Regions from separate parts of the Homo sapiens genome. Here region 1 is linked to region 2. The links come from fine-mapping of genetic effects on gene expression. A gene starts in region 2. The other region holds a variant in brackets. All regions are shown on one strand. Distances are from middle to middle.

Region 1 (16,665 bases), 86 kb after region 2:
GGTCCCTTGTTAGATTTTGCCTGGAAAGTGCCCTGTCCTATCTCCTGCAGAGCGGTGCATCAGAGAGAAAAGAGAGGGCATAAAACCTAAAAAGTTTGGAAATTTTCTTTAAATACTTCATGCATACCTGTGAAAAAATAGAGTAGAGCCTATCTGTGGCGACTGTTGAAAACCAGAGAAACAAAAAAAGACTTTAATAGAAAACCAACTTCATTTAAATGTTGGAGGCAGCTGCTTTGTTTGGAGTTTTAATCCCATGCTGGTGGATGCTAATTCTGTAACATTATACAGTTGCCTTCTTTTGGGTACAAAGGTAGAAGGGGGGTTTTCTTTTGTGTTTTTCAGTGCAAAGTGATTCTGATCAGAAAGGCCCAAGGTTTCAGCTCCAAGTACCTGACATTTCCATCTGAATCTACTTTTTTTTTCAAAGGGGAAAAAAAAAGGTCTAGTTTTTCAGGAAAAGAACCTCTCTACGCAATCCTGAAACTGATCTTTAGATTTACTTTTCCTTAATCAATAGAAAAAAACTTGATTGCAGCTCAACACTTACCTGTCTCTAGTGCAGGACTAACTTAATTTTTGGTTTTAAGAGTACGAGATTCAGACATTATTTCAGGAATCAGAAATTATTGGCAACAAGTTGAGGAGAACTGACATGAATTCTTGTTTTACCTAATTTTTTCTGGCTTACCAAGATTTGGCTTAATATTTCTGACTCAGTTCCTCCAGCCTCTACAGAACAGGTTAGTGACATTTTTCATAAATACAAATATCTAAATGAATCCTCCTTACTTCTCTCTGAACCGGTTCCCTAAGGGCTCTAGTCTTAAACTTGCACGGCATCTTCTCCATTAAAGCTGTGTGTGATCTCTGCTAAACCTTTGTACCCTTTCCAGCAAAACTGTCTAATATTTAATATGTGCTTGAAATTACAACATATATACTTGACAACTAAAGATTTGCAATAAAACTCTCACAGGATAAATTCATTGCCTTTCCCGTGAAAGTTTGGCTGAAGAATTGTGATAACTTCAAATGATAAGAGGAAGGTTTTTCTTTTTTAAGAATACTGTCAGGAGGAGACTTCATGGTCTAGCCACACGCTTGGGTGATGTCTAACTTGAGCTTGCGTCCGTGTTCTCATCGCAGCTTTGCAGAGTGACACAGACAAAACATGCTCCTGATGGAGGGTAAAGCCACCATGCAACCGATTGTAAACTAACACGAAAACAAGTTTCTCTTTGCTGTGTTCCTTCTTTAATTAACTTGCTGGAACTAATTGGTTGCTTGTGCGCTGGATTCTATTTTTATTGTGATTCCAACTCTGGATTGGTCCTTTTTTATTACTAATGTTTCTATCATTCATTTCACTGTGGGAAGTCAGTGAACAGAGTAGACTGGCCCTGAATCTGGTCAATACTTCAAAATGATGGATCGGCTCCATTCTATGGAGAAGGTGATGGCAGACTCTAAATTCTCCTAGCTGTAGAACACATTGTGTTTTAACCAACTTTTGTTTGATTCTGATGGAAAGCTGTAGTGAAAATTAGGAAATCCAGGTCTCACTGGGGTGTGGTTTCTGCTGCAGAGACACAACCCGGGACCTGCATGCATCTTTAGCGTTGGGTCCTAGTTTTCAGCGCTTTATTTGATGCAGAGGGGATACCTTTCCTTTACGCATACCACTCTCACTGATCCTAAATAATTACTTGACAGTTTGAATGATCTCATTACACTTCCAGACTGGCTTCTTCTGGGCATCTAATTTGTTCATGAAGTGTTGAACTTCGGAGGACCTGCCAGCATTCAGGGGATTTCAGCCCGACTCAGCACTGTTGATGTTGTTATGTGAATTTGTTCTATGACGGTTTTGATGGTCTTGGGATTAGCCACTAAACACACCTGGTGTTCTGTTTACTCTGGCAAGCTGGGGATTTTTTTTTCATTTTCTTTTTAAAATTCCAGGATGAATTATTCATCATTCCTTAGAATTTGGGTCTCTTTCATCTTCGCACTTGTACAGCACCAAGGTGAGTACTACAGAATTCCATAAAGCTCTCAGTTAGCATGCTCTTGAATTGATAAAGAGACACTTTTATTGGAACCACAATTGTAAGGGCAGGTGCATGTGTGTCTACAGATACAAGAGAAAAATGTAATTAAATTCTATTATCAAGGGTAAAATTCATTAACTTTAAATGAGGTTTACTTATATTCCCACTTTTTTCTTATTTAACTTCAAATACTATTTGTATGTACCAGCTTGCCCTGTGCTAGTGGAGTAGATCTTTAAAATTACGCAAAATTATTTCCATTAAAAGTAGATAAGATAGGGGTATGTGCACTTCATGTCTGATCACTGATTTCCATTAAGGCATTTAATTTGTGGTGGAGACTTTAAAGAATCTACTTATTTCGGCCAAAAACTAGGAAATTACAATAGCATTGATGTCAGTGGTTTGTGTATCAGTGACCTTTTACGTGGCCCTCAAATCTAAAACTTAAATAAGACAATTTTTCCCCTCAGTGATTCCTTCTTTTTCTCTGTGTAGCACTGCCCTGGGTAAGTGAAAGGCCACATATGTCTTTTTTCTACTGTTGTTTTGGATTTTAGACAAAGACGGGGCGGTCTACGTAGATTTTAACTTTTTATGGCTAAAATTCTAAGGCACCTTTCTTTACCTTGCGAGTTTGTCTAGTTCAAGTGGCACATGAGTACAAGTCTGAGATGAACACGTCAAGCCCCTGTGCAGTGCTAATATTTTTCCAGAATTGGTGAATTTAAGCAGTTAAACCATAGTGTGAAACCCCACGGGAATGAAAGAGGGCCCTTGACTTCAACCTCCTACCCCAGCTCCAAGAAAGTACATTTTATTTGGTGGGAAAAAAAAAATCCTGGAAACATAGCTATGTTTATTGTGAAATTCTCAGCTTAGGGCAAGCATGGATAGGGATATTCTTTCTTTTAGCAACTCTGATGTTATTGATAGGCCATGCTGCTAACAGTTTTATATATATATATAAAAATAATAATGGCTTCTGCAGTGTTAATTACCGTAGTTTAAACCTACGCCCTTGTGTTTAGCACCCTCTTTTTCATTTGACAAGTATTATTTACCATATTAGATATTCTTAATGTTTGTATCCTTCTTAAAATTAAAAATATTTAACAGTCCGTTCTTTCCTATTCAAAATTGTGAACTAATTAGGATCACCCACGAAGAGAAGAATCTTGCAAACTGCCTCACCTTTGCAGCAGAAGAGGAAGTTAGGGTCATTCTCCCTGGCCATGGTTTTCCGTCTCCTCCATGCGGTATTATGGGTTTTCCATTCCCTAGGCAGATTGGCCAATCAGTGCAGCCCAAAATACCAATTAATCTTTCCATACAGATGATGATAATTCAGTGTGAATTTGAGCCCTCATTCATACTTGGGCATGACTCCTAAAAAGTTCCCCATGAAGGATAAATCCATGCCAGGACATAATTTGTTACTGTTAACTTCAGAAATAAGTACCTGTGTATAATACTGTAGTAGAGATTATAAAGATTTTTTTTAATTAGTACTTCCAGGAATTTTTAATTTGTTACTATTATGTAAATAGAAATGTTAGAAGACCCCTTTTCACCTGCTGGTTGTGACATTAAATACAGCTCATGGGCCCAGAGTGCCTATGACCCGACACAGCGCCTCCTACAGCCTCAAATTCGGGCTGCTTCTCAGCAACTTCTGGGGTTTGGACGATGCATATACACGAATGACCAGATTAGTTTTGCTGCTCTCCTTGGATGTCAGCCCCTGGAAAGAAATTAGCCCTCCGTTGAGGCATAACTCCTCTTGCTCCCTGCTTCAGAACTGGAGAGCTGGCTCTTGGCCTGGTGCAACAGGCCTGCTTTCTGGCCGCTTTGCACTCCTCTCTTTTACATGAGCTGTTGTCTGTTCACCAAAAGCCTCCCAAAGGAGCAAAGACAGTCCTTGGCCGGTTGCTCCCCAGCCTATTGCTTCCATCAGCACAGAGCAGGGACTTTCCCAAGTAGAAGGCCCGACATGAGAATGGGGGTGTCGGCATCTCATAGCAGCAAGCAGGTACCTCAAGAAGTGTGGCCGATGCCCAGCATGGTCTTGCCCCTGCCCCCGAGAATGAGAAATTTAAAGAAAGGAAAAAAGGGAGAAAACGATAGTGTCCTATTGTCTTATATTCATTCAGGAGAAGAAAGGACAGAGGCAAAGAAAAGTAACACCCAAAATGTAGATTATTTCACAGATGCTATTGGACTTGATCCTCAGTGATGCAGACCCTAGGGAACTTGTCTCATTTCTCCCACAAAACTGAGCCACATCTTGCAACAGTATGGACGGGAAACCTGGGAGCAGCAAGCCAGGAGAGGAGGTGACCCTGTCACAGCGGGATGCAGTGTGTGTTTGTGTGATGGCTCTCCAGTGACCAGGAGGACCAATCAGAGCCCTGCAATTCATTCTCTCCAAAGAGTTCTCAAGGACCCAACCCTCTGACCCCGGAGGATCTCATGTCTGTCTTTTGTAAAAAAGGAGTTGGGCAAAGAGCCTCTTGCAGGGCCGCCCTCAATCAAGGTCATTCATGGGCCAATTGCTACAAATCCTCTCCTCCCACTTTTGTCTCAGTTCCCACTGTTGTTTATTTCCTTCTGGGATCTGGGATTTTCTCCAATTGTGCAGCAAGAGGGAGGGAACTCCTTTCAGGAAAACACACGATAGTGGAATTCTTGAGCTAGAACAGGAGCTTCAAAACTGTGGCCATGCCAGACCTAGAGGCTGCCTCTCAGTATCCAGAAAGCTCAAGGTTTCCAGGGAAATTTCACAAATTTCCAGCCAGCTGTAGCCATAGATATCACCAAGATGCATGAAAGTGCAAGAACATGCACAAAGTGCTTTCTCCTATGGAGAAACAATGTCACTCCCATTTTCCCGTTTCCCAGAGCAGAAGATACTGCGCTGTGTATGGCCTAGGTTTAGGATGAATGACAGGGCAGTATGACTTGCATTCAGCTTGCAAGCCCTACTGAAAGAAGCTGGCTTCAGTAGGTAGGAGAGATGTAGATTGCCAAACGGCAGAGGGAGCTGCCATCTATCTAACCATCATCTCTCTTGACAGCTCAGCCCAGGGAGCTCATGTATCCATTTTGGCAGAATGACACCAAAACCCCTAAAGTAGATGATGGAAGCTCATCTGAGATTAAGTTGGCCATCCCAGTTTTCTTCTTTGGCGTTCCTTACCGCACTGTCTATGTAAGTGGAGAAGCAGCCCATCTGTTGTTCTCTGGCCCTCCCTTTTGTTTGTCATTAAGAAAAGCATTTTAAGTATCCTCTTCCAGAGCTCTGGGAAGGGAGGATTTATTGGCAGCCAAAACGACAAGTTCTGAGATTTCATGAGCTGATAGGTTTTATGAATAAGAAAGTCAAAGGTATATTTAATGGCTAATGTTCATAGTGGAGGAGTATACAGGGCAATAAATTGCTTTTGTCAGTGATTAAACATAGAAGTGAAGCAGAAGCCCCAATGCCATGAATGTTATTTCTGCTACTCAACGAGATAAAAAGATACAATGAACCACAGTAGGAGCAATATCATTTTTCTTTCCCTTCTGGGGGTGTGAAAAGTTTAGGCATCTGCTGTTCTTGGGCTTCCTACCAATTTGAAGCAGAGTCGGAACACAGTAGGGGGGTAATCAACTATTATATCAAAGTTGTTTGCAGAATTGGCCACCCTCAATATGGGTCTGTAGATAGGCCAGAGGGTCTCATCGCCCAACCCACACTAAGAAATGGTCCCATTTGTGATCAGAGCTCTCCTAGGCACCTGTGTTCTCAGGTTTTTGTTTTTGGTTTTTTGGATCATTGGGTTTGCTGCTAGCGAAACTGTGGCACATGAAGAGGAAGATTCAGAGCAGCCGAGCCTGGCTTTATTGTTGGCCTTAAAGAACTGGGTGAGGGATTATACCACACCCCTGGAGGAAGAATGCAACCCTAAGCATGTCCACCTCTGGCCATCTCTACGTCTGGGACCTCTCTCTTCCCCAACTTTTGATTTATGGCTCCGGGATGATTCCCGCTAGAAAAGAGTTCACTATTCCATTACCTAACGGTGGTCCCTGAACCTGCAGAAGCAGCGTCACACAGGCACTCATTAGCAATGTCATTTCTCAGGTCCCACCCCACACCTACTGAGTCAGAAACTCTGGGAGGAGGAGCCAGTAATCTGTGTTTTAATGAGTCCTCCAAGTGGTTCTGATGCCCACAAAAGTTTGAGAACCACTGATCTCAACCATAGGATATAATCAAGACACACGTGAGTCATCACCAGCTTCCTCTGCCAGTCTGTGTGTTTTAATTACACCTGTTGTTCCCTAGCAAACACTTCATTCTGACATCCTGAAACGCCTTTTATACTCTATTCACGGCAGGGCCTCCCTAGTCTGTCTTTGTAATAGCTGGTTTTAAGTTTTGGGTTGTGTTGACCTGATTTTGGCAATAAGGCAGTGAGGACTTCCGTGCTGGAAGCCCAGTTAAGCTAGTTTTTCTTCTCTATTGCACTGTGTGATATGGAGTCTGAAGAATTTTTTCTTGCCCTTGCAACAGGAGGTTCCTTAGCTTGAGGCAGATTTATTTGAGGGTAAATTGTTCCTTGCGTTTCCAACACTTTGAGTAGTGCAGTTTTCTTCAAGCCTCTAGGATGTTCCCAATTACTGGAAGACAATAGGCTCTTAATGTCTCTTCCAAACCCAAAGCCTTGCTTCCAAACACGTAGACCTACCCTTGGTCCAGGCCTTGATAACTTGCCTCTGGGATCTGGGCCACTGTTAATGTCCATAATGTTACTGGTTAACAGAAACTTAACATATGATTGGAATGTATAGGAAAATTATCTCCAGGTTTTCTATATCCAAGAATTGCAGTTCCCATTACAGGTACCTCTGCTGCTGAAGCCGTGTCAGCCACAGGGTTAAATCAGTTTATCTACCAACGTACAGAGCTGCAGATTCACGCAGAGGCTGAATTGTTTACAGGTCCCTTGTAAACTGAGGGTATATCTTGGCTTGTGATTTCCAGTAAGGTTTCCTATTTAATTGGTTTACTAAGCCATTTACAAATCATGAAGAAATCACCATAAGATAGTCATTTACATAAACAGTGTAAAGTAGTCATGCCTCCATTTTTATGCAGCGATTGTACCAGGACACTATCACACCACATGAGCTGGAATGGAACTGGGCATCTGTAGGTCTTAACCTTGTCCTTGCTCTGAGTGCAGGAGTGGTTGTGACATCAGTGGAGGTCTTTTAAATGTCTCACCCAAAGCAGAATATTTTCATCAGAGACTGGAGTTGGATGAAGGAGTATTTGATTTATCTTTCTCTGACACTCCTCTTTTGTCATAAAATAGGAAGCAAGCCCTAACATAGGGCACCTCAATTTTCAAATTTAACTTTACTTCCATGCTTATTTATTTTTCCTGCTTATTTTGTATTAGTGACCCTGAATCTGTCTTTAGTACCCATGTTACTCCCTGTCTGGCCCAGCACATACACGCATGCCACCCCCAGTACACACATACACACACACACCACTCCCAGTACACACACATCACACCTCAATATACATACACACACACCACCCTCAGTACACACACATGTACACACCAACCCCAGTATACACACACATACACACCATGCCCAGTACACAAACATATACATCCCACCTCAGTAAGCACACACACCCCACCCCTAGTACATACACATATACACACCCACTCCAGTATGCACACACTGCCCACCCCAGTACACACACACTCCAATATACACACACACATACACACCACCCCCAGTACACACACACACACACATCCCAGTATACACACACACCACATCCCCCGTATACACACACACTCCCCACCCCAGAATACACACACAAAGCCCACTCCAGTACACACACATGCTCCAGTATACACACACACCTCACCCCAATACACACACACATACCCCCACTCCAGTACACACACACTTACACACCTCACCCCAGTACACACACACACACCATCACCAGAACACACACACCCATACTCCTCACCTCAGTACACAAACACACACTCACGCACCTCACCCCAGTACACACACACCCTTCAGTACACACACATGCACATCTCACCTGTAGTACACACATACACACACACAGAAGCACAACTCAGGAGCATTTGATAAGTGTAATAGAGACAGGATAGGGAACATGAAAATGAGACTGATTATTAATCAGAAATGAAGCTGGTTACAAATCTAATGTGAAAGAAAACCAATGAGTTTGTCTGGAAGTAAACGAACCTCTTAGTCTGAGCAATGGAACCCGGTGTTTGGGGGTTCTAATTCAGTAGTTTAAAAGTTGTTTTCATTCATACAGTTAGGCGAATGTCTGTCTTGGTTTGTGACTCTGAAGTTGTTATGGTTTCAGATCCACTGTGCAAAACCTCTCTTATTTTCGTAGGTCAATAACAACGGAGTTGTTTCCTTCAATGTGCTAGTGAGCCAGTTCACGCCAGAATCCTTTCCCCTGACAGATGGGAGAGCCTTCGTCGCCCCATTTTGGGCAGATGTGCACAATGGAATTCGAGGCGAGATCTATTACAGAGAGACCATGGAGCCTGCCATCTTGAAAAGAGCCACCAAGGACATCAGGAAGTACTTCAAAGACATGGCAACCTTCTCTGCCACTTGGGTTTTCATTGTGACATGGGAGGAAGTCACGTTTTATGGAGGCAGCAGCACCACACCTGTAATAATTCAAATTTTCTGCTTTCCACTTCATAACCTGACATCTAATTCTTGTCCATCTTCGCTACCACGAAGGAGTCTAATTATTAGAGCTAAGGAGTGTCAGTTCCCTTGAGTTAAACTAATGAGTTTTGCTACCCACTTTGCAGGAAACAGAGGGAACTATCACAGTTAACCAGCCCAGTCAGCTGTAATATTTCAGAAGATATGTCACCCCTATCACAAATCATCACTAATGCCTAAAAAAAAACCCTCAAAAACTTTCCTGCTGTAAGTGACATTGCTGTTTTGCAGGAGAGTGCTTGAGGCACTGAGACCCATTCCAGGCCACATGCTTAGGGACCCATCTAGGGACCCAAAGGTCCTTTTCTCTTGCCCGAGGTACAAGTGCCTCTCTCCATCCCTGATTTCCTCCCTCTCTCCCCAGTAAAATTTGGTTGGAAGAGAAAAATAGCGTTCCAAGTTTGGGCCCAAATGATCTGGCTCATTTTATTATGTTGTGACATCTTTTTTATTGTTACCAGGGCTGAAATTATTCATATTTGATGTTAATTAGAGTGGGCAGTGAAAGCATTTCATGAATAAAGTTTCAACATCTGCTCTGAAATCCCAAATAAGCAGTCAAATAAAAGTCAGATAAGAAAGATTATCACTGCCATTATTGCAGAGATAATCAACTTTCTACATAAAGGGACAGAATGCAGTTTTCACAAAAGCCTGCAGCTTGTTTGGGTGACTTTGCCAGTGGAGAGTTTTGAAGTAGTAGACACATCTTCAACTGTATAATTTCTAGTAAGCAAAGACACTCAAAAAATCTGCCCTCCACTTACTTAGGATTATTTCCAATTCCATCTGTTTTCCAATTTCCTTGGCAACGAGTCAATTGTGGAGGGGTGGAACAAAAACGACTGAGTTAGAGAGAGGTGAAAAAGTGCTGGGCTTGCAGTTCACAGCTGCGACACCACGAACACATTATGTTTTAGCACCT[C/T]CTAGCCAGAGCATCAAGAAGCACTTTATCGCTAAGAGGTTCTGTAGAACAGAAAGACACAAGTTTAAACAGCGATGCATTGGCTAGAAATAACCTCTAAAGAAGCACACATTTCCCTCTGTCACGTTATAGATCGCTAACGACTCCTCGGGTGATGTTTTATGTCCTTTAAGCCTCATATCTTACAGCGTTAGAATGTGGGATGCCAGCAATTGATAAATTTTAGTGTCATGGGGTTGGGGGAAGAAATGCCTATCAAATGCTGACCACCAGTTTTTCAAAAAAACTTCCATTGGCAATAAAAATGGCAAGATAATTTAGATACTTTCTGGCTTATACTTTGGAGTATATTTCTGAACTAGGTGAGAACTCTTTCTGTGAGGATGAATGAAGTAACATCTAAGTGCTTTGAGCTCCTTGGAGTAAAAAAAGATGATGTAGTTCTCTGGAGCTGCAAAAGTGTCCATCCATCCCCATCTTTGAAATTGGCCCCACCTCTTTCATCCCGTTATTCCATGTTTCCCCTTCTGTATAGAAACACATATGATCAGGCCAGCTAAACACTGGGCTTGAGAGGTCTTTCAAAGGCAAAAATTCTCATGCGACGCCAACAGAAGGGAAGGAAAAGGGACATGTTTACTTCAAGGAAGGAAAACTAATATTTACTGAGGGTTTACTATGTGTCTGGTGCTGAAGGCTATTTTTGCATATCATTTAACCCTCCCCAAAATGTTCCCGGACAAGTACTGTCTCCAATTTCAAGGGAAGGGAACAGGCCGGGAGAGGCCAAGTATCTCGTTCAAGTGGCAAGAAAAAGAATAGGATTCAAATCTCCTAGGAGACAGAGCAGGGTTCAAACCAAAGTCTTCCAACTCCAAATCCCAGACTCTTCTTTCTTCAGCTGCCTCCTGCGGGTATTGCTGAAGTCCTCAGAAGCAAAAAAGATTTTTTTATCCAGAAGAGTCTTGGAATGAACGTTGAAGAATTCTGTAGTGTGAGAATGTGTAAGAGTGAGCTGAGGTGCGTGCGGGTGGCAGTCAGCCTCTGGGGTGTCACTGGTATGGCTGGTTGGTTTAGAGGTGACTTCAGGGGTTGGAAATGGATTGCTCTTGAGATCTGCTTGGACCAAAGATATTTCCAGCTTCACTGTGGGAGAAGGAATTCCCTTCTGAAGGAGAATCTTGGTCTGAAGGAGGCTCTAGCTTTAGTCCTTGTGTGACTTTGACTTTGCCCCTGTCCCTTGAACAAGAGCCTGCTGGTGACCTTACAGCAATCTTGAGCCTACTGCTCACTCATCTCTGTGTCCCACTGTCCTCTTCTGTTGAATGGGGCCAGAGACTGAAGGCGTTTACCTGAGCAAGTCTATCACAAACGCCATCAGCCGTGGCCAGCACAGAGCATGGGAAGAAAAGTTCTTTACAAAAAGGGCTGTTCTTACTCATAGCTTGCCTCCCTTTCTGGGATCATCTAGAATGGGGAGATTTGGGGCTTCCAAGATCCTCTACCCCAGTTTGATTACACAGGATAAGGATTTGTGTCTTCCTCTGCATCAGACAGAGTGTCAGGCAGCTGGGAAAAGTGCTAGGTTTGAATAGAAAAAGGTCAATGCAGCCTCTCCTTTTAACTCTATTTCTATTAAATTTTTTGAAAACATGTGACAAGGGGTGAGGATTAGCAAGAGGAAAATATAAAGGACAGGGTTTGCTACAGCTTATTTCTGAAAACCATTTACAAGTTTCATATGAATTTAAGCAACATCTCTATCCTAAAAAGTTTAAAATGAAGACAGCATGGAATGGCAGTGCTCTGAGAGATGGACTGGGAACTCTGGCGCAAATCTCGTTTTCTGTTGCTGGGTCACTGTGAAATTTCTAGTAACTCATTTCCCGCAGTCCCTAGTTTTCTTAACTATAAGATAGGCGTGGGCCAATACGATCACCCGTCTTAGCGTTGGTCTGGGGTACAGATGAATGTTAACGATTTTCAGAAATAAAGTGATGCACAAATGCTCAATTAGAGGAGTAACTTCTCCCCAGAAAGTGCTTTTTAAAAATCACTTTCCCACTTCCATTTTTAAAAGGGGAGACATCTCATCAAGATTAATGTTGTTTTCCGGGAAGAGAGAGAGCGCAATCCGCATGGCCACTTTAATCACACGGACTGGTATCTGCTCCCTCTTCCAACCCGCTCTGCAAGGGGAACCGGTGGTTGCATCCTGGTCCCCGGCCGAGTCTTTCCTGTAGTTTATTCTCATGCTGCCATCTATAGGTGCTTTCATATTATCACACGCTTAGCCGGGCCTCTGAATTTTCTGTCTGGTAGAAGTCAGAGATATAAGTGGGCGCTGAGTCAGACTCTGGGTTTATCTCAGGCAATTTCTCTTTTAGAAGCACAGTCCCACATGTCTTGCTTTTCCCAACGGAGGCGAGAACAAATTCAGAGAGGAGTCAGAGCTGGAGGGCCTGGCTGCAGAGCAGCTCTGAGCTGCCTGTGGGTGGGGAGGGCGCAGGGTGAAGGGAGGACCTCCTTGGGGCCAGGACCTCCTGGGGAGTGCAAGTCATGAGACTGCGCATTCCCATCCTGTAGGTGAACACCTTCCAGGCCGTCCTAGTGTCCGATGGCTCCTATACATTCACCCTCTTCAATTATTACGAAATCAACTGGACCACGGGGACGGCGAGTGGCGGCGACCCCCTGACAGGTCTTGGTGGAGTGATGGCACAGGTAGGTGGCTCTCCACTTCATCCCCCGCGTGTTTCCGTCGCTGCACTCTCTGCTTCTGTGGCTCAGCATCCTGGAGGGAATCCTGCCACCAGCTTTTAACTAGAGACGCAGGTCTGATCTCGCAGGTGGACTACGAGGCTAGTCCTGCCCATGTTTGGCACCCTGACTCGGCTATGAAATGAACTAGGCAGTCCTTTCTCACCTAGAATGCTGGCCCCAGTGACTCCAGGAAAAGACGGCTCTTGATTTTAGAGGTGCTGGATTTTAAAAATAAGGTAGTTGGGCCAGTTAACCCATGGGGAATTTTTGTACTCAAAAATCTTGTCTTCCTTTTGTGCTGCAGGCAGGATTTAATGGTGGAAACCTCACCAATTTCTTCAGCCTCCCGGGGTCAAGAACCCCCGAGATCGTGAATATCCAGGAGACCACAAACGTCAATGTTCCAGGCCGCTGGGCATTTAAAGTTGATGGAAAGGAAATTGACCCAGCCAATGGCTGCACCTCAAGGGGTAAAGCTTTTCCTCTGTCTGTGGCAAGGCAGGGTTTGTTTAGTGTAGATTGACAGGCAAGCTTTTAAGCCACGGGGGCGGACTCATTCCTGATGCCTTACTCTTTTGACATCTCTCCGCTGGGTAATGGAGATCAAGGTAATTTTAGCATGTGCATTCATCACATCAGAAGCTAAAACACTGCATTCACTACCTTGTGGCTTTGGAAGTCCTTTTCTGGAGTGTGCACACAGTTATCCGTTCTGAACAACTCCGAAATGGACCAAGATCTTGAGTGATTTCTGAGCCAGAGGGACAGAAGGCAGCCCTCCTGTTTAACATTATTTTTGTTGTTGTTGTTGCCATTTCCTCCCCCCGCCCTTTATGTTTTTCTTCTCATCCTTATTCTCGCTCTGTCTTCTGCACTTTGTAGATCTACAGGAATGGGTGCAGTTGGAGTATTGCCAAGTTCCTATGAGGGTAAATCAGTACTTCCTAGTATGATTAGAAAAAAAAGAAACAAAAGTTCTCCTAAAATCTTCCCAGCATCAGCAAAACGTGCAGGAATTTGAGGAGAATCAAAGCTGACTTTGGGTATCTGTGAGTAAGCTGTAGTTGAACCTGGGTGGATGTCCTTCACATTGGGCACCCAAAGTTTGGAGCCTTTTCTGAACTATCGAACCCCTTTAGATGTGCAAACTCACCATGGACTTTCAGAGAAACATCCTGGTTTATGAATTCCTGCTTTTTTGTGTCCAAAAATATTTAGAAAACAGAATTTCTGATAATATTTCTACTTCCAGGAGTAGAAGCTACAGAAATTAGAAGAAGGAAATAATGCCTCTGTTCATTAGTCCATCCACCCACCCATCTATCCAGCTACCCACCCACCCACCCACCCATCCACCCACCCATCCATCCACCTACCCACCCACCCATCCACCCACCCATCCATCCACCTACCCACCCACCCATCCACCCACCCATCCATCCACCTAGCCACCCACCCATTCACCCACCCATCCATTTATCCATCCACCCATTCACCCACCCATCCATCCACCTACCCACCCACCCATTCACTCACCCATCCACCTACCCACCCACCCATCCACCCACCCATCCATCCACCTACCCACCCACCCATTCACCCACCCATCTATTTATCCATCTACCCATTCACCCACTCATCCACCTACCCATCCATCCATTCATCCGTCCACCCATTCACCAACCTATCCATCCACCTACCCACCCACCCATTCACCCACCCATCCATTTATCCATCCACCCATTCACCCACTCATCCACCTACCCATCCATCCATTCATCCGTCCACCCATTCACCAACCTATCCATCCACCTACCCACCCACCCATTCACCCACCCATCCATTTATCCATCCACCCATTCACCCACTCATCCACCTACCCATCCATCCATTTATCCATCCACCCATTCACCCACCCATCCATCCACCTACCCACCCACCCATTCACCCATCCATCCATTTATCCATCCACCCATTCACCCACCCATCCATCCACCTACTCACCCATCCACCAACCCATCCATCAAGTCATCCAGCCATTTAGCAAGCCATTGCATCTTTCTGAAAAGCATTTTAAGAGCCCCATTGAAATGCCAGCCACTCTGTGAGGTGCTGGAGATAAAGCTGCTCTAGCTACCATGACATTACTATGGTAGAGGAGACAGAGCCATGGGAACAATGATGACACAGCATAAGACATATTATGGTAGACACTTGTGTAGGGTACTGTGGAAACACAGAGGAAGACCATGGGAAAAGTGTTTCCAGACCTCTAAGGAAGTTTTGGATAGGAATGAGGAGGTGCCTTTATCCCCTCAGATAGAAGCTTGGACTGCTTGTCTTGGCAGCCCTGGGAGGCCTCGGGGTTCTTTCTTGGCTCAGATTCAATTTGTTGTTGTTGTTGTTGTTTTTTGTTTAGGAGACAGGGTCTCTCTCTGTCACCCAGACTGGCTAGAGAACAGTGTCGTGGTCATAGCTCACTGTAACTTTGAACTCCAAACTCCTGGGCTCAAGTAATCCTCTCACCTCAGTCTCCTGAGTAGCTGGGACTACAAGAACCACAACCATGTCAGCTAATTTTTATTTTTTGTAGAGATAGGGTCTCAGTATGTTGCCCAGGCTGGTCTCAAACTCCTGGTCTCAAGCCATCCTCCCATCTCAGCCTTCCAAAGCACTGGGATTAAAGGTGTGAGCCACTGCACCTGGGCTCAATGTGTTTAATATACAGAAAAGCCACATTCACATGGTCTGACACACCTGTGCCCTCTGCCCCTTTCCCTGTGCTGTGATTAGTGCCTTCGCTCTAAGGTAGGTCATGTGTGAAGATGGCCTGCCTGGACCCTTGCCTCTGTGGACTCTGTAAAGTCCCCCATGTTCAAAATAACAAATAAATGTTTTGCAGCTAAGCTGGTATTAACTGGATAGGAAATAATCTAGTTCCAGAGCTCATTAGGATTTGAGATTGTACCCTCCTCCCCTACAGAGTGTAAATACGGCATCACTTAAGGTCTGTGAGAGATACCAACTCAATACTACATTATCTCCCTCCCCTGTATAGCCTGGACCAGGGGCCTCAGAAGTTGCAGACTCTTACCCAAATACCTCTTCCCTTTGTCCAGGCATCACAGAGATGACTGGCTATGGCCATACAACATGAGTGCCCAGTGACAGCCTCTCACCTGGGTCCTGGGAATGAAATGCTGTGATAACGGAAAACACTGGCTTGCAGAGCTGCGGAGTTGGTCAGATGCCAGCTGTGTACACAGTCTCCACTTTGACTTCATTCTTTTCCTCCTGAGTTATAGGTTTGGGTTTCATATACGGGATGATTTCAATATCCTTATATAGACTGCTATGCATTTTTATGTGCCTCCGGACATATATCAATCTAATGAGACTGGGATTTGGCCTGGGGTATAGCAGGGGAAGTGTTCTGTAGAGCTGGTTTATTATATCATCATTCCACAAACAAAATTATCTCAAAGAGTCTACCTTTTGGTCCAAACCTCCTCTATTCAAAGGCATTTTCCTCTCACTTATTGAAAGCCTGAAAAAGCAGGGCCTGGAAATGATGCTGAGTGGAGGCTGTCACAATACATACAGCCCTGAACTAGTGCCAAGGAGTGCTGAGGATTAGGACCTGTTTTCAGGGCTGATGCACATGACTTATTGGGAATGTGACTAAATCTATTCTCTCATTTTTCAACCCTATTCTCAACAGGTATAAAATGGAATTGCCTGTTGAAACATCATTGTTCCTGTTGGGCAGATAGAGTCAAGACTGTTACTGATACACCCGCACCCTCAACTTGGGTTAACCTTGCAGCCTTGTGCTATTCACTCGATAGTCAGTTTTATAAAAACTTGAGATGTTATTTACATTTCTTAATGCTGTGTCTTTGATACTTGCCTTTTCAGACATTCTCATTTTACAAGTGCTTCTACTTCTATCAACCTGTGTCAACTTTTTTATAACATCGCTGTTCTCTGTGAGACAGGGATGAGAAACAGCAGTATCCACATTTTACAGGTTAGGAAAACAGACAGGTGGAAGTTGAATGAGTAGTCTTGGAAATGGATTGCAGATTTGTGACTGCTGCCCAGTTCTCTTGACCC
Region 2 (16,665 bases):
CATGATCCGCCCGCCTCGGCCTCCCAAAGTGCTGGGATTACAGGCGTAAGCCACTGCGCCAGGCCTCAATATTTACATTAAATATAAATAGATAAAATTCTCAAATTAACAGACAAATAATAGGCTGGATTAAAATCCAATAACACGGGCTAGGCGCAGTGGCTCATGCCTGTAATCCCAGCACTTTGGGAGGCCAAGGCGGGCAGATCACAAGGTCAAGAGATCAAGACCATCCTGGTGGAAATGGTGAAACCCTGTCTCTACTAAAAATACAAAAATTAGCTGGGCTTGGCAGCATGCACCTGTGATCCCAGCTACTTGGGAGGCTAAAGCAGAAGAATCACTTGAACTCAGGAGGCGAAGGTTGCAGTGAGCCGAGATCACGCCACTGCCCTCCAGCCTGGCGACAGAGACTCCATCTCAAAAAAAAAAAAAAAAAAGAAAAGAAAAAACAACAACAGCAACAAACCAATAACACTATGCTATTTATGACAGATACATCTAAAATATAAGGTTATAGAAATAAAAGGATAGAAGATTTACCACAAGAAAGCTGATTAATATTAGGCAAAATAGTCTTTAAGGCTATTGTTAAAATATTACTGGAGATAAGTGGGATATACATAATGAGAGGAAGTTCAATTTACCAGACAGAGAATACAATTTTAATTTAATACAGTTTTTAGTATTATACCACCAAAACATAAATCAAAAGCTATCAGAACTATAAGGAAAAAAAGATTCATCCATAGACTTAGTAAGACATTTTAACACACCTCTCTCAGTAACTGATACAAGTAATCAATCTGCTTGTAACAATTGTTACAAAATCAATTTATAACAAAATATCAATAAGGATATAAATTGAACCACATAATTAACAGAAGTGATCTAATTGCTTATATAGAACACTGAACTTAACAACTGTAAAACACAAATTATTTTAAACATTCACAAAGAATGTATCCTCAACCAACAGGAAGGAGAAAGCCATCTGGGACATATATGCTCAACTGGTGGATGGGGAGCTAGAGAGAGAGAGAGAGGGACCTGTGGGCCATGGTCTTTATTGGGGTCATTACCCAAGCAGGTTTTCCCACAAGGCGTTCTAACTGATGGGTTTAAAGCAAGTTGGCAAGAGTTCCATGGGGTCACACTGTGACTGAGAGGGGCTACTGTGGCATATCTGCGCAGTCCTTGGGGGTTAAGGGGATCAGAGGGGTGAGTGAAGTAGGTTGTATCTAACCATTCCATAGGGAGGTGGTTGTATAAGGCAGATAACTGGATACACTGCATTAAGGAACTGTAAGGAAGTGGACAACTGGAAAGTGTGTCAAAGGTGACTATGTCCTGCTTCTGATATCTGGTATGAGAAAGCTAAATTTATATTTAAATGGATGTTGAAGTAACATAAAATTATAGGAATTAACTATATTTCTAACTAATTCATGAGCCAAAGAAGAAATCACAAGTGAAAATATTTTGAACTAAATGAAAATGAAAATACAACGTCCAAATTTGTAGGGTGTAGCAAAAGTAGTGCCTAGAGAAAAATTTAGAAACTTGAATGCATATATTAGAAAGTAAGAAACATATAAAATCAATAATCTAAGCTTTCATATTAGGGAACTAGAAAAATAAGGGCAAGTTAAATCCAAACTAAAGAAATAAATAAAAATTAGAGCAGAAATCAATGAAATCTGAAACAAATCGGTAGAGATAAATCAATAAACTCAAAAGATGGTTCTTTGAAAAGATTAATAAAATCAATAAGCCTCTAGCCAGGCTAAGACAAAAAGAGAGAAGACACAAATTACTAATATCAGAAATGAAAGAGAAACATCACTACAGATCCCAAAGACATGAAAAGGATAGTAAATGAATATTATGAACAACTCTGTGCCCATAAATTTGATAAGCTAGAAAAAAATGGAACGATTTCTTGAAAGACACAATCAACCAAAGCTCATACAAGAAGAAGACAATCTGCATAGGCCTATATCTCTTAAACAAATTAAATCAATAATTAATATCCTTCTAAAACATAAAGCACCTAAGCCAGCATGGGTCCATTGATGAATTCCACCAAATGTTTAAGGAAGAAATTACACCAATTATCTATAATCTTTTAAGACAATAGAAACAGGTGAGTACTTTCTACCTCATTTTATGAGGCCAGCATTACCCTAATACCAAAACAACACAAGGACATTACAAGAAAAGAAAACCATAGAGCAATATCTCTCATGAACATATATGCAAAAGTCATCAACAAAATATTAGAAAATCAAATCCAACAATGTACAGAAAGAATTATATACTACACCAAATGGGATATATTTCAGGTTTGCAAGCCTGATTCAATACTAAAAACTCAATTAATGTTATCCATCACATCAATGAATTAAAAAAAATCAGAAAATGTTTAAAGTGGAATGATAATGAAAATGTACATATCAAAACTGTGACTCACAACTAATGCTGTACTTAGAGATGTACCGCTTTAAAGACTTTTTAGAAAATAAGAAAATTAGAAAAATAACAGTAAATGAAACCAAATAATAGCAGATATGGTAATATGGTAGTTAGTAATCACCTTTGGTTCTGGAACATTTGAAATGTGGCTAGACTAAATTGCTCTAAGTGTAGATTATACATGGAATTTTGAGAATTTAATATGAAAACAATAACAAAATATCTAAATAACATTTTGGATATACTGGGTTAATAAAATACATGATTAATATTAATTTAACTTTAAAAAATATTTTTAATGTGGCCACTAGAAAAAGTTAAACTACATATCTGACTTGACTTGTACTATATTTCTTTTGGACAACGCTGATCTAAAGCTAGGATTTACCAATTTTACTCTTGGGTATATTCCCAACAGAAATGTTTATATGTGCCCTAAATGACAAGCACAAGAATGTTCATAGCAGTGTTATGCATAATAACCAAAACCTGGAGACAACACAAATGTCCAGTGGTGGAATGGATAAATAAATAGAGTGTTACTATAATATAAGATACATGTAGCAACAAAAGTGAATAAACTATAGCTACATGGACCAAAATAGATGACTCTCATAATATTAAGTGAAAGAAATCATCTCGTTTGATTTCATTTATTTAAAAATGGGGAAAAATAAGCTACACTATTAGAAGTCAGAATAGCAGTTAATTAACTTGGGGAGAATTGTGAGTGTAGGTACTGGGGGAAGTCTTTGGGAAATTGGCAATGTTCTATGACTTAAATGGGAGGTTGTTACATGCTTACCTGTGAGAACTCATTGAGCTGTGCATTTATGTACACTATGTGCACTTTTCTGTATGTTATTCTTCACAATAAAAAAATTATGAGAGGTTAGTGAGACTTCTAGCAATTTGTTGCAAGTGATTTTAATTAATGTAAGGTCTTCTTGAAAATTAAGCTTTTTGTGGCTGGTCTATTGCAAATTGCAAAAAAACAAATTAAGAGTTGTTTTTTAAAGACCATATTCTGCCCAGTAAGGAAATACTGATTCTTTCTAAATAATTCTAGGTATGACTCCCCAGTTTAAAATTTTAAAAATCTTTGTCCTTTGCTTGGTCACTAGGCTTGGCATGACAGTACAGCTCCTGACAAATATGTCAATAATGTTGACAAAAATAAAATATAGAATCTGAGAATTGCAAAATTTAAAGGGGTCATCCATTCTACATTTTTTTGACTTAGAATTTGTGTGTGTGTGTGTGTGTGTGTGCATGCATCTGATGAAATCTGGGACACTTCCTTTTAAAAATGCATACATGTGTAATATACACAATATATATAATTTCAGGTGGTTTGCCATGATAGTTTATCCAATCTCTGTTATTTGGTAGATAATGCTCCAGGCAGAAACAGTCTAAGAGGCAGAGCTGGTTAGTGGAAAAACCAGGAATGGTATTAAAGACACAGTCACCAAACCAGCCATTATTCTTTCAAGTGAAGCAGCTGCTTTTCCCTTCCCCTGTGTTCCCATCTGTGCACTGCTGTTGTTCACATTAAATTCTCATATAATTATGTCCTTATCCTCTTGTCTACTTGGGAAGAGCCTTCAGCTGTGAAGATAATTCCCTTATCTCCTTTTAAAAAATAACATCCCGTAAGTTGCCATGTATCACTGTTACCATTCCAATTACATTGTAGAGACCATGCCTTATTTGTCTTTGTTTTCCCCAAACCACCTAGCTAAGTACAAGGAACAAAACTCTTACAAAATAAGCAATTGTTAAATTAAAATGACATGCAAATAAATATCTGGCTGAAACTTCATGACAGAACTATATCTCATAATACAGGGTCATTGTGAACTAAAATGCTGATTTCAGACTGACCTAATGTGAATATGGACTCTGCCTTTTACTAGTTGTATGTTGCTGGGTGTATGACAACCTCAGTCTTAGTTGGTAAATCTGATAGCATTAAGCATACTTCATAAGATCATTGTGAAGACTGAGGGAAAAACAGTAATCTACATAAAATGTCTCAAGCAGCGTCTGGCATAGTAAAACCTTAGAAAGTAGCTATGATTTTTGTTATGGCATATTCGACTCTGAATTAAAGATCCAGTAGGAGAAACATAGACTGAGAATCTTAGAAGACTTCGAATCTTCTGATCCAGGAATTGTTCACATATTGTTTTAACAGATTCTGCCTTTGCTCAACCTATTCCAATGGCAGAGAATTAACTAGAACTGACTAAAGCAGCTCCAATTCTCCCGAAGTTCTTCCTTATTATTAGGTTGCACTGTATGAAATTGCCCTTTGTAAGTCAAAGTGATCGAATTATGAATATTTTTTTGGCTGGGCTTGGTGACTCATGCCTGTAATCCCAGCACTTTGGAAGGTCAAGGTGGAAGGATCGCTTGAGGCCAGGAGCTCAAGACCAGCCTGGGCAACATGGTGACATCCCATCTCTAGAAAGAAAAAAAAAGTTAGGGAGGCATGGTGGCACAAACCTGTAGTCACAGCTACTTGGGAGACTTGAGAAGCAGGGATCACTTTAGCCCAGGAGTTTGAGACTGCAGTGAGCTATGATTGTGCCAGTGCACTCCAGCCTGGGCGACAGAGAGAGCCCCTGTCTAAAATGATAATTAATAATAATAATATCTAATAAAATGGCCACAAATCTGCCTGTTATTTTCTCTCAGTTTAGTTCAACGTCCATTCTCTCCTTTTCCTATATGATAGCCCTTTAGAAATAATGCGGAATCAATAGTGAACATGATAGACCTACTCCTGCCTTCATTGAGGCTTACATGCTCGCCAAAGAAACAACAAGGAAATAAGCTATTATGTATAATTTTCTGTCTCAAGGAAGTGAAAGAAGAACATTTGAAGTAAATGGCTTTGTGGAGGGAATTCCTATAGAATATATCATACAGGAAGGTTTGTGAGTATAGAGCAGTGCAGTTCAATAGAACTTTCTGTGATGATGAAAATATTCTGTATCTGCCCGGTCCAATATGATAGCCACTAGCCACATATGGTGATTGAGCACTTGAAATGTAACTAGTGTCAAGTGACTGAGGAAATGAAACTCGAATTTAACTTAATTTTAATTAATTTCAATTTAAATAGCCACATGTGGCTAGTGGCGACCAGATTGAACAGAGCAGATACAGAAGAGCAAATAGCAGTGATAAATGAGGCTGGAAAAGTCAGCAGGGTCCAGATCTGGAAAAATTTTGAGAAGTACATTAATAATAATAGACGTTATCTTGAGACCCACAGAGAATCCTGAAAGGGTTTTAAGTTCCAGAGAATAACACAATCACATATGTGTTTTTGTTTGTTTGTTTGTTTGTTTTTTTGATACAGAGTCTCGCTCTGTCACCCAGGCTGGAGTGCAGTGGCACAACCTCGGCTCACTGCAACCTCCGCCTCCTGGGTTCAAGCGATTCTCCTGCCTCAGCCTCCCGAGTAGCTGGGATTACAGGCTTGCACCACCACACCCAGCTAATTTTTGCATTTTTAGTAGAGACGGGCTTTCACCATATTGTCCAGGCTGGTCTCAAACTCCTGACCTCTTGATCCATCTGCCTTAGCCTCCCAAAGTGCTGAGATTACAGATGTAAGTTTTAGAAAGATAATTCTGGCTGTCTTGGGGAGAAAGATGGGAGGTGGGTAGAGACATTGATCTTGTCTTTAGAAGTTTCATCTATAAGGGGAAAGATGGGAAAAGAAGCAGAAAAATGACTGGAGGATATCTCAGAGATACAAAGAAGTGTATAATCGACCACACCCAGCCACATACAATACTCATATATGTATTTATATACGTTGCACATAGTATTTGTTAACAGTAATGACCCATATTTCTTGCTTTTTTCCTAGTTGCTCACAGGGCAACTAGCCTCTTAAGCGTTTCTGGGTGTCCCCAAAGGTACCTGAGCTCAGAAGTAAGTCTGTCAACAGAGTATCCATGCAGCATCCACCTTGTACATTTTACTCCGCTCTTCTCATGGTCCTCACCACTGAGGCTACTTTTGACTGTGGCCATGCTGAGAGGTGACAGCGTGCTGGCAGTGGTGACAGCGTGCTGGCAGTCCTCACAGCCCTCGCTCGCTCTTGGCGCCTCCTCTGCCTGGGCTCCCACTTTGGCGGCACTTGAGGAGCCCTTCAGCCCACCGCTGCACTGTGGGAGCCCCTTTCTGGGCTGGCCAAGGCCGGAGCCGGCTCCCTCAGCTTGCAGGGAGGTGTGGAGGGAGAGGCGCGAGCTGGAACTGGGGCTGCACGCGGCGCTTGCGGGCCAGCTGGAGTTCCGGGTGGGCGTGGGCTTGGCGGGCCGCGCACTCGGAGCAGCCGGCCGACCCTGCCGGCCCCTGGCAATGAGGGGCTTAGCACCCGGGCCAGCGGCTGCAGAGGGTGTACTGGGTCCCCCGGCAGTGCCAGCCCACCGGCGCTGCGCTCGAGTTCTCACCGGGCCTTAGCTGCCTTCCCGCGGGGCAGGGCTCGGGACCTGCAGCCCGCCGTGCCTGAGCCTCCCACCCCCTCCATGGGCTCCCGTGCGACCCGAGCCTCCCCGATGAGCGCCGCCCCCTGCTCCACGGCGCCCAGTCACTTCCACCACCCAAGGGCTGAGGAGTGCGGGCGCACGGCGCGGGACTGGCAGGCAGCTCCACCTGCAGCCCCGGTGCGGGATCCACTGGGTGAAGCCAGTTGGGCTCTTGAGTCTGGTAGGGACGTGTACAACTTTTATGTCTAGCTCAGGGATTGTAAATACACCAATCGGCACTCTGTATCTAGCTCAAGGTTTGCAAACACACCAATCAGCACCCTGTGTCTAGCTCAGGATTTGTGAATGCACCAATGGACACTCTGTATCTAGCTACTCTGGTGGGGACTTGGAGAACCTTTGTGTGGACACTCTGTATCTAGCTAATCTGGTGGGGAGGTGGAGAACCTTTTGTCTAGCTCAGGGATTGTAAATGCACCAATCAGCGCCCTGTCAAAACAGACCACTCGGCTCTACCAATCAGCAGGATGCGGGTGGGGCCAGATAAGAGAATAAAAGCAGGCTGCCCGAGCCAGCAGTGGCAACCCGCTCGGGTCCCTTTCCACACTGTGGAAGCTTTGTTCTTTTGCTCTTTTCAATAAATCTTAGTACTGCTCACTCTTTGGGTCCACACTGCTTTTATGAGCTGTAACACTCACCGCGAAGGTCTGCAGCTTCACTCCGGAGCCAGCGAGACCACTAACCCACCAGAAGGAAGAAACTCCGGACGCATCCGAACATCAGAAGGAAGAAACTCCAGACGCGCCACCTTAAGAGCTGTAGCATTCACCGCGAGGGTCCGCGGCTTCATTCTTGAAGTCAGTGAGACCAAGAACCCACCAATTCCGGACACAATGCTAATGATCTCAGTGCTCTGAAAGCCAGTAATTCTTAAATTGCCAAGAAAGGCACTCTGTTCTCTGTGGAAGGGGGAGTAAAGCCCCTTCCTGAGCAACCTAAGATACAATTCTTGGCTAATCATCCCCTTTATACTCAGAGCAGTTTCTTTACCCATGACCTTCTGGCTTTTTTTTTTCCTCTCTACCCTGTCTAACCCTACCTATGGGATATGAGAAAACAAAACAGAATGACAAAAATAAGTCTCCAGGAACTGATGATGGTAAGGTGCTATTGGGTCTGTCCTAAATAATTTTGTTTCCCCCTTCTAGAAACCAATGCAGACATGCACATGCACATTACATCCCCCACGTCTTTTCTGGCACACACCACACAGAAGCACATACACTTTATGCACAAAGACATCTTCATCTCCTAGCACTTCAGGGGACATTCCCATACAAGGCTGAATTCACTTGGGGTTGAGCCAGCACCACGCCTATTCCATGTATGTTTCTGCAAAAGAAATGGACGAAGGAGTACATAAGCAATCACAGCTCAACAGTCAGATATAGTAATACTATGCATGGAGTTGGAGCAATAGCGTGGCATAAAGTGAAGTGCATGGACCCTGGTGCCAGCCTGACCTGGATTCAAATCTCACCCTGGTCACATTTACTAACTGGGTGGTCTTGGGCAGATCACTTAAGCACTCTGAACTTGTTTTCAATTCTATAAATACCATCTCTTTGGAGGGCTGTAAAAATTAAAAATAGCACATGCGCAGTGCCTGTACCTAGAAAGTGCTCAATAAATGAAAGCTGCTGTTACTACATTGGTGTTGGAAGCTCGGGATGCCACTTGTGAAGGGGGCACAGAAGAAAGGTCAGACTGCCACCATACCCTGAGGGCTCATCTAGTATAGTTCCCTCATTTTATGGTTGAGGACACTGAAGCCAGAGATAGGAAGAGACTTGGTCAAGGTCACACAGCAAATCAGTAACAGAGCCAGGCCAAGATTCCAAGTGTTTCTGGAAAGGTTCAGCCCAATGCTCTTTTCTGCAGCCCCTATTGTCCTCTGATATGACAATGTGTACTCCTGTTCTGCCCCTGGGGATTGTCCACTCAATGGGTGGGCACGAGAAAGAGCAGATGAGGTGTTTGTGGTAAAGCCTAAGCCAGTGCAGCCATCCCCGTCGCCATGGCAACCCCAGCGCGGTTGGGGAGGACCCGCTCCTCCGGCGCCCCCTCCCATTCACGCAGCGGACGTGACACGTGCGGCGGGGTCACGTGTTGTTGTTGGGCCGGGAAAGCTGCTTCCGGGTCAATGCAGGACACTGGGCTCCGGCGGCCAGAGTGGGGGACTAGGTGAAGCGGCGCCGGGCCGGGGCTGGCCGGGACCAGGCCCGAGGCTGAGCGGCGGCGACAGCGGTGGCCGGGAGGGGGGAGGAGAGGCGCAGCCAGAGGAGCCGCCGCAGTAGCTCCCCCGCCTCCCGGGCTGAGGGGTGAGTGGAGCCGGGCCCGCTGGCTCTGCCGGGCTCTCGAGGCCCGAGGCGTTCCCCTCTGGAGCCGAGGCGCGGAGGGTCGCTCCTGCAGGGTGCTGGGATAGGACACTCGGGGAAGGGTGAAAGCCACATGGGGCCTGTCTCGAGCAGCTGTGGGGATGGGAGACCTGCCCTGGGGCTAGAGGGAGGATGGGGCCTGCCTGGCCTGGGCTATGGCGGAGCTGGGAGGGTCTTGGGCTGGGCTGGGCTGGGCTGGGCTGGGGGACTGGTCCCGGGTTGGAGGAGGGCGTGTTGGGGAGCCTGCCCGGGTTCCTGGGAGAATCTAGGCGTCTCACCTTGCCCCAGCGTGGGGGATGGGTAGATGCCTCCCAGCTGTTAGAAGAGGGAGACGTGTCTGGGACTGCTGGGGAAATAGGAAACTTGTCTCTGAACTACTGAATCCCAGAAAAGAGGACATGTCCCCAGGGAGGTTTGCTGGGGGAAGGACGGGCATGTCTAGGCCCTTGGGACATTAGGCCTGCTCTTACCAGGGGCTGATAAAAGGATGTGGATGTGGTAATTGAATAAGGGCTTTTGGGAGAAAAGATTTGCCCCAAGGTTGGGAGACTGAGAACGAGGGTGTTGGACTGACAGGCGGGTGCCTTGTCGTGGGATCTTGGGGGAAGTAAGGATCTGTGTGGAGCTTCTCTGTTGAGTTCTAGGTCCGCTAGTAGGAAGACATTCTGGGAATTGGTGAAGAGAGGAGATTTAATAGTCTTTTCTTGGGACACAGTGATTCCAGAAGTTGTAGTTGAGGAAAGTTGGTTGGAAGTGTTGAACTGTATACAGTCAGTGGAGAAAGGAGGAGCTCTACTGTGAAGGTTGCTAGGCTACAAAGAGCTTGTAGGCAACGCCTAGGGCTGTTGAGAGAAGTTGGTAATGCTTTCAAGTCCAAATACAGGCTGAGCTGGGGCTTGTCCCTTGTTCATGTCATGCTGCTGTGGAGCTCTTACGTTTCCAGTAGTCTATCTTGAGCAAAGAGTATGAATAGGTGCTGAGGACTAAGGAAAACATTCACTCTTTGGGTCCTGAGATGCATTAGACCCAGATCTCTAGGGTGGTAGCTTTCAAACTTAAAAAAAAAAAAATTATGCCCCACAGTAATAAGTATGTCTTACATTCAGATCTAGTACATACGTAGGTATGAAGGGAAACTTTCACAAAGCAGTATTTACCCTTATTATATGTGATATGTTCTGCTAATTTCTATTATATTCCACCCTCTTGCATTAAAAAAAATGCTGGCTGACATTTACTAAATTGATGATTTGTGGGTCACAACTTGCAGTTTGAAAAACACTGTTTCTGAAGCACATTTATTTGGTGTCAATCAGTGTCCTCATTCTGTAAGCTTCTAAAGAGCAGGGATGATTCTAAGGAGATGGATTTTTTTTTTTTTTATTTTATTTTGGCCGGGGGAGAGGGAGGAGGGCAGCTAGGTGCAATTGATTGCTTCGGTTTAGATGTTTATACCACGTAGCATATTTGACCTGTGTTTTCTGAAGGACCATAATCTTGATCTTTAATATCTTGATGTTGCCTGATCATTTGATTGATGAAATTTTTTGTATGCGTGTGTGTTTTAGTTTCCTTTATCCTTTGCTGTGTCTGAGAAATATGAGAGGCCTAGTTCCACTTAGTTGCTTTATCACAACATAGTTAAAGAAATTTTATTTTACTGTTCCAATGTTGTGAAGATACACTGATTTTCTTTTCTGCTATTTAAAAACATCCCAAATTCTTCTTACTGCAGTAATTATTATGATATACTTTTTGCTACATGATGAAAAATATATGAAAAATACACGATAAAATATATACCAAAGCCATAGACATATTTAAAAGCCTTACAGTCTACGGCTTTGGTATATAAACTTAATCATAAACCTAAGTATAACTTTCAATCAGTTAACATCTTAATTCCCCTTACAAAAATTTTAGGTGGGGTCCTTAGAAAAATAGTATTAATTCATAATAAACATTAATGACTGTTGGTGAACAAAGTGAGAGTCCTTCATGTAATGTTAAATGTTGTAATGTTAAAGTCCTTTGAAAAGTTGTTACATAGCCTATTGCTGCAGGACATTGAGTGTCAAAGGATGTTGTCTAATTTCAGTAGGTACACAGGGTATGTATTTAAGACCAGTTTAATAGCGTTTCTTTTTTTGAGGATGAGTTCGTATTATTTGTAACATAGAATTCAAAGACACGGTCATCAGGACAGAAGTACCCAAGTTAAAACTTCATCAGTGGGGCCACATTCTTGATCAAATGCTTTACGAAAACATTCTATCATCTTTGAACTTTGTGTGTTATAAATCTTTCTTGCCTTTAATTATTTATTAGGTACTGATAGAGGCGTTATGCTGGCATATATCAGCCATCCTTTAAAAATGACCTCTTAATCAGGGAAATATTTGTTTTAAAATATTTAGCTTTAATGAATGTTTAAAGAAGATTTTGTTTTGTAGGTGCCTGGAACATTAAGGAAGATTCTTATTTATTTCATTTTTCTGGGAATCATATGTACTTGTCAATAAACAGTTACGGAGAAGTGACCCTGAGTGATTGTGTGTGCTTTTTAATAGTTTTTGTTTCTTCTCTGATCCTTAGACTCTTAAGCCTGTCCACCTGTAGCAGGCTCTTTTCTCCTTCTAATTTTTGCCTCCAAACTACTATGGTTTTGAAAATCAGATATTTATATTTGTTATATAATACTTTTTTTTCCTTTTCTTAGTGTGTGAACTGTGTGACATGTATGTTGGCTACTTAGAGACCAGTTTACTTAGTCCTGGGCTGTGTTTTAAATAAGTGAACTCTTTATATATTTTGGGCCTGGTTAGCTGTATAAGAAGTAATGTGAAACTGATAGTGATACAATTTGGGCTTAAAGGGTGAAGGAATCCTTATTTGCGATTGTTGCCTTTCTCCTACACGTGATTAGTTATTGAGATTTACTATTCCTCCCTTTTTCATGCTACCCATTCTGACTTACTTCTTTGGAATTAGAATGGTAATAACTGGACTGTTCCCATTGTCTTTTGCTTGCATAGCTTCATGAGAGAACTCTTCCAAAGGATATTGCTATGATTATTTCATTTCCCTCCTCAAAAACCATTAGCTGCTTTCCAGTACAGGCACTGAATAAAGCCCATGGTGTTTAGCTTGATATTTAGGGCCTTCTACAGACTTCCTCTACTTTTTTTCTGGCATCATCATTACACTCCTAAATGCAGTTCCTCTACCTGCCAAGGCCTCTGCTCATGTACCTTCCTTTGTGTGTAAAATTATCCCTGAAAGTCTGCATATAAAATGTTCCCTTTCTTCATGAAATCCTACTCACTCTCATTTCATTTCAGATGACCCCTCTTCTTTGAAGTCTTTGTTGCTTATGTTGTCTGTACTGCCTTTGCTATATTGCTTTGTATTATTTGTGCACCTTATTTTTATCCCTTTTAGATTATAAATGCGTGGTGAACAGGAGGCTCAAATATCCATGAAAAACTAGGACATCTAGCACAGGGTCTACCAGGGCGTAGTTCATAGACCAAGTAGATCAGAATTGACTGAACGTATGGTTAAAAATGCAGATCCGGCAAGGCATTGTGGCTCACACCTGTAATCCCAGCACTTTGGGAGGCCGAGGTAGGAGGATCGCTTGAATCCAGGAGTCAAAGCCAACCTGGGCAACGTAGGGAGACCCATCTCTATGAAAAATTAAAAAATTAGCCAGGCATAGTGGTATATGCCTGTAGTCCCAGCTACTTGAGAGGCTGAGGCCAGAGGATCACGAGCCTCAGAGGTTGAGGCTTCAGTGAGCTATGATTACACCATTGCACTCCAGCCTGGGCAAGAAGAGTGAGGCACTGTTTAAAAAAATAAATAAATAAATAAAATAAAATAAAATAAAGCAGATCCCTGAATTCTGACCTAGACTTACTGAATCAGAATCTCTGGTGGAATCTAGGAATCTGCATTTTATCAAGCTGTCTGGATGATTCTTCCATACAGTAAAAGTTAAAAGTCACTGACCTAGCCTGATGCTTTAAATTACAGTAGGTACTCAAATAACTTTTCAGCAAGTGATGTTAATGAACTGAGCAATATCATAATTCAGCAAACTGGTTTAATTTTAGGGCCTTGAAGTCAGCCTAGATTTGAGTCCTGGCTCTGTCACTAGCTCTGGGCCCGTAACCTCTCTGCTTCAGTTTTCTGATCTGCAAAATGGGATAATAGTACCCCTTATAAAAGTGTTGTGATAACTAAGTGAGATAATACATATAAAACAACACAGTACACAACACATAATAAACTTACAATAGATTTTATCTGCTGTCATGATGATGCCTAGCACAACAGTGGTCACCGCAGTAATAATAAAACATCATGAAGAGAGGTTCCAGATCAGTCATTGTTAACAAACAAATTGCTCATATGGTTTTAAGAACTAAGGCTTAAAATATTTTCTATTTTACATTAACAGATTGTGGCCCTATGTGGTGTTTAAAGTCATAAAGGTGTTTCCGCCTTCTTTAGAAGAATTGGTATCAAATTAGCATGTTAGGATTTTTCCCCTTCATCTCCCCACTGATGGAAGAATAAAGTGCAAACTTTTGAATGGTGGACCTTAGCCCCTTACCATCTGGCCCTACCAATTCTTTATTTTCTAGCCGTCTTCCCACATATACTCTATACTCTACACCAACTACACTACATTTCTCACTTTATTTTGCATTTCTCACTCATTTGTGTTTGTGCAGATGCTTTCCCCTTCTTTTCATCTAGTACATTTCTGCTGCTGTCTTGTAAAACTCAGTTTTACATGTGACTGACCTCCTTAGTGAAGACAGTCACTCCCTCAGTGTTCTCAAAGTCCTTTGTCCATGCTTCTTATATATTACCTTTGTGTACATTTGTCTTTTTGGAGGGAAAAACGATTTAATCCTGGCATGTATTCCCACCTCTGCCAAAAGGGGAGGATGTTTGTTTATTTGACTCATATCAGCTCCTCCATTTGTCTGGACGTCTCAGCTTTCACAATAATAACTAGTTTATTGACCACTTACTTCATGCCAGGTACTTAACTAGATGCTTCAAAAACTTTATTTCATGTAGTCTTCACAATAACTGTGAAATGGCTATTAATAGCTTCATTTTACAAGTGAGGAAGCAGGCATAGAGATAGGTAAGTAACTTGTTCAAATTACACAGTAGTCATAAGTGAACTCAGAACTAACTGAAGACCATGCTTTTAATCACAGTGCTCTTCTAAAAATGAAATTTAAACAGGTAGCCCATTTCCCAAATTCAGGATCTTAAAACTGTGTGAAACTTTGATTAATCACTAATCATTCTTAGGAATGTGATCCATAACAAGTACTATTGTGAAAAGTTATTTAAAACTGTTCTTGGAATAATGCGTTTCCGGTGATTTTCAAAATTTTTCTTCTCATTCTGCCATTGGTGAGCTTCATTTTCATTTCACTGTCAGAAGGTGTTGCTTCATGTCTATTGATAATGAAATTCACTTTTCCATTTATCCAATGAATATTTTTTAATCATATGCCAGGCACTGCTCTGCACAAAACTGAACTGGACTGACAAATCCCTGCTTGTGTGGGACCTATCTTCTGCTGGAGAACAAACACTGAACTAACGGATTATGATAAGTGCTATAAAGAATGACAGAGGGTGAAGTGACTATGAGTGATGGTGGCAGTAGTGCTATTTTTGATGGGGTGGTCAGAAGCAGCCTCTTTGAGAGGGTGACATTTGTGTTTAAATTTGAGACTTAAACACTGAGATGAAGCAGCTCTGCCAAGAGACAGGAAAAGGGCAATCCTGCAAATGCAAAGGCTGTAGGGGGAAATCAGCTTGGCAAGTCTGAGAAATAGAAAACCACGGAGGCTGAGTAGTGGGCCAGGAAAGGAGTGGGAGGAAATGAGGTTAGAGATGTAAGCAGTGATCAGATTAAATGAATCCTTGGCGACCATGATGAAGAGATTGGATTTTATTCTGCATGTGAAGGGGAGCCATTGGAGAGTGTAAAGGACATGATTTGACTTAAATTTTGAAAAGATCACTTGGCTGCTTTGTGGAGAATGATTTGTATAAGAGTCAAGAGGGACCAGGGCGGAGGCTAATGCAGAGGTCCTGGTGAGAAGTTGATGATGGCTTGAACAAGAATAAAGTAATAGAGATGGACAAAATTGGGCAAAATTGGGATATTTTGGATGTGGTATTGATAGGTCTTGCTGATTAGTTACACAGGGGTATGAGAAGAAGAGAAAAGTCAAATATAACTTCCAAGATGGGAATGAGTGGAAGAGGAGCAGATTTGGAGAGGGAATTCAGAGTTCTGTTTTTGCCTTCCTGATCATACTATCCACTAAGGATACCACTATTCTGAATTTTGTGTTTTTTTCTCTGCCTTTTCTTTACAGTTTTTGCCATATATGTACGCAACCTTAAATGATAAGATGGCTAATTTCCATGTTTTAAAATTTTGTATAAATGGAATTATACTGTATATATTCTTGTGATTTTTTTTTTTTTTTACCCATTCAGCATTGTTTTATTTTTCTGCCCTGTGTGAACAAATCAACACTGTTTTTCAAAAGCCATTCATGTTGATGAGGAAGTAGGCATAATGAACTACCAATTGTTAATTTCCATTGCTGTGTAACATTTTATTTTATGAATATATTGTAATTTACCCAATTGCCTGTTCTTAGATATAAGGGCTTCTCCACACTGCATTCCCCCCCACCGCAATCCTCCCAGGATTTTTGCAGTTTTAAGCAATGCTGTTGTTACGGACATTCTTTTACTTATTTCCTGGTGCACACTACAAGTTCCTGTAGAGTTTATACTGAGAAGTGGAATTGCTAGATCATAGAGTATGTGCGTCTTCAACTTTACTAGACAGTAATAAATTATTTTCCAAGGTGTTTGTACCAGTTGATACTCCCACTGGCTACATTGCCAGTTTCTGTTCTTCTGCATTTTCTCCAACACTTGGTATTGTCAGAGTTTTTAAGTTTTGCTGATTTGCATAAAATGGTATCTCATTGAGATTTTAATTTTTGTCTCTGAAAATTATTGAACGTGAGCATCTTTTACATATGTTAAACATTTTAATTTTATCTTTTAGTAAGTACTTGTTTATGTCTTTTGTCCATTTTCCTATTAGGTTGTCTTCCTCCTTCTTACTGTTTTTAAGAGTTCTCTGTATTAGTTACACGTGTTGCAAGTATCTT

What was found. PIP is the estimated chance that this variant, and not a neighbour inherited with it, causes the effect.
Region 1: its variant is fine-mapped to the expression of TBCEL-TECTA in whole blood (INTERVAL, PIP 0.92).

The regions. Positions count from the first base shown.
Region 1 is chr11:121,100,700-121,117,364 of GRCh38, forward strand. TBCEL-TECTA (TBCEL-TECTA readthrough) reads left to right here. Exons shown (of 30, transcript NM_001378761.1): 8 at 1,966-2,030; 9 at 5,132-5,265; 10 at 8,512-8,799; 11 at 12,373-12,510; 12 at 12,854-13,019. TECTA (tectorin alpha) reads left to right here and starts at 544. Exons shown (of 24, transcript NM_005422.4): 1 at 544-743; 2 at 1,966-2,030; 3 at 5,132-5,265; 4 at 8,512-8,799; 5 at 12,373-12,510; 6 at 12,854-13,019. The coding sequence starts at 1,967. The variant C/T (reference allele first, on the strand shown) is at 9,787.
Region 2 is chr11:121,014,925-121,031,589 of GRCh38, forward strand. It overlaps TBCEL-TECTA (TBCEL-TECTA readthrough), which reads left to right and starts at 9,178. Exons shown (of 30, transcript NM_001378761.1): 1 at 9,178-9,367. TBCEL (tubulin folding cofactor E like) reads left to right here and starts at 9,178. Exons shown (of 9, transcript NM_001363644.2): 1 at 9,178-9,367. RefSeq lists silencers at 8,992-9,141, 9,162-9,431.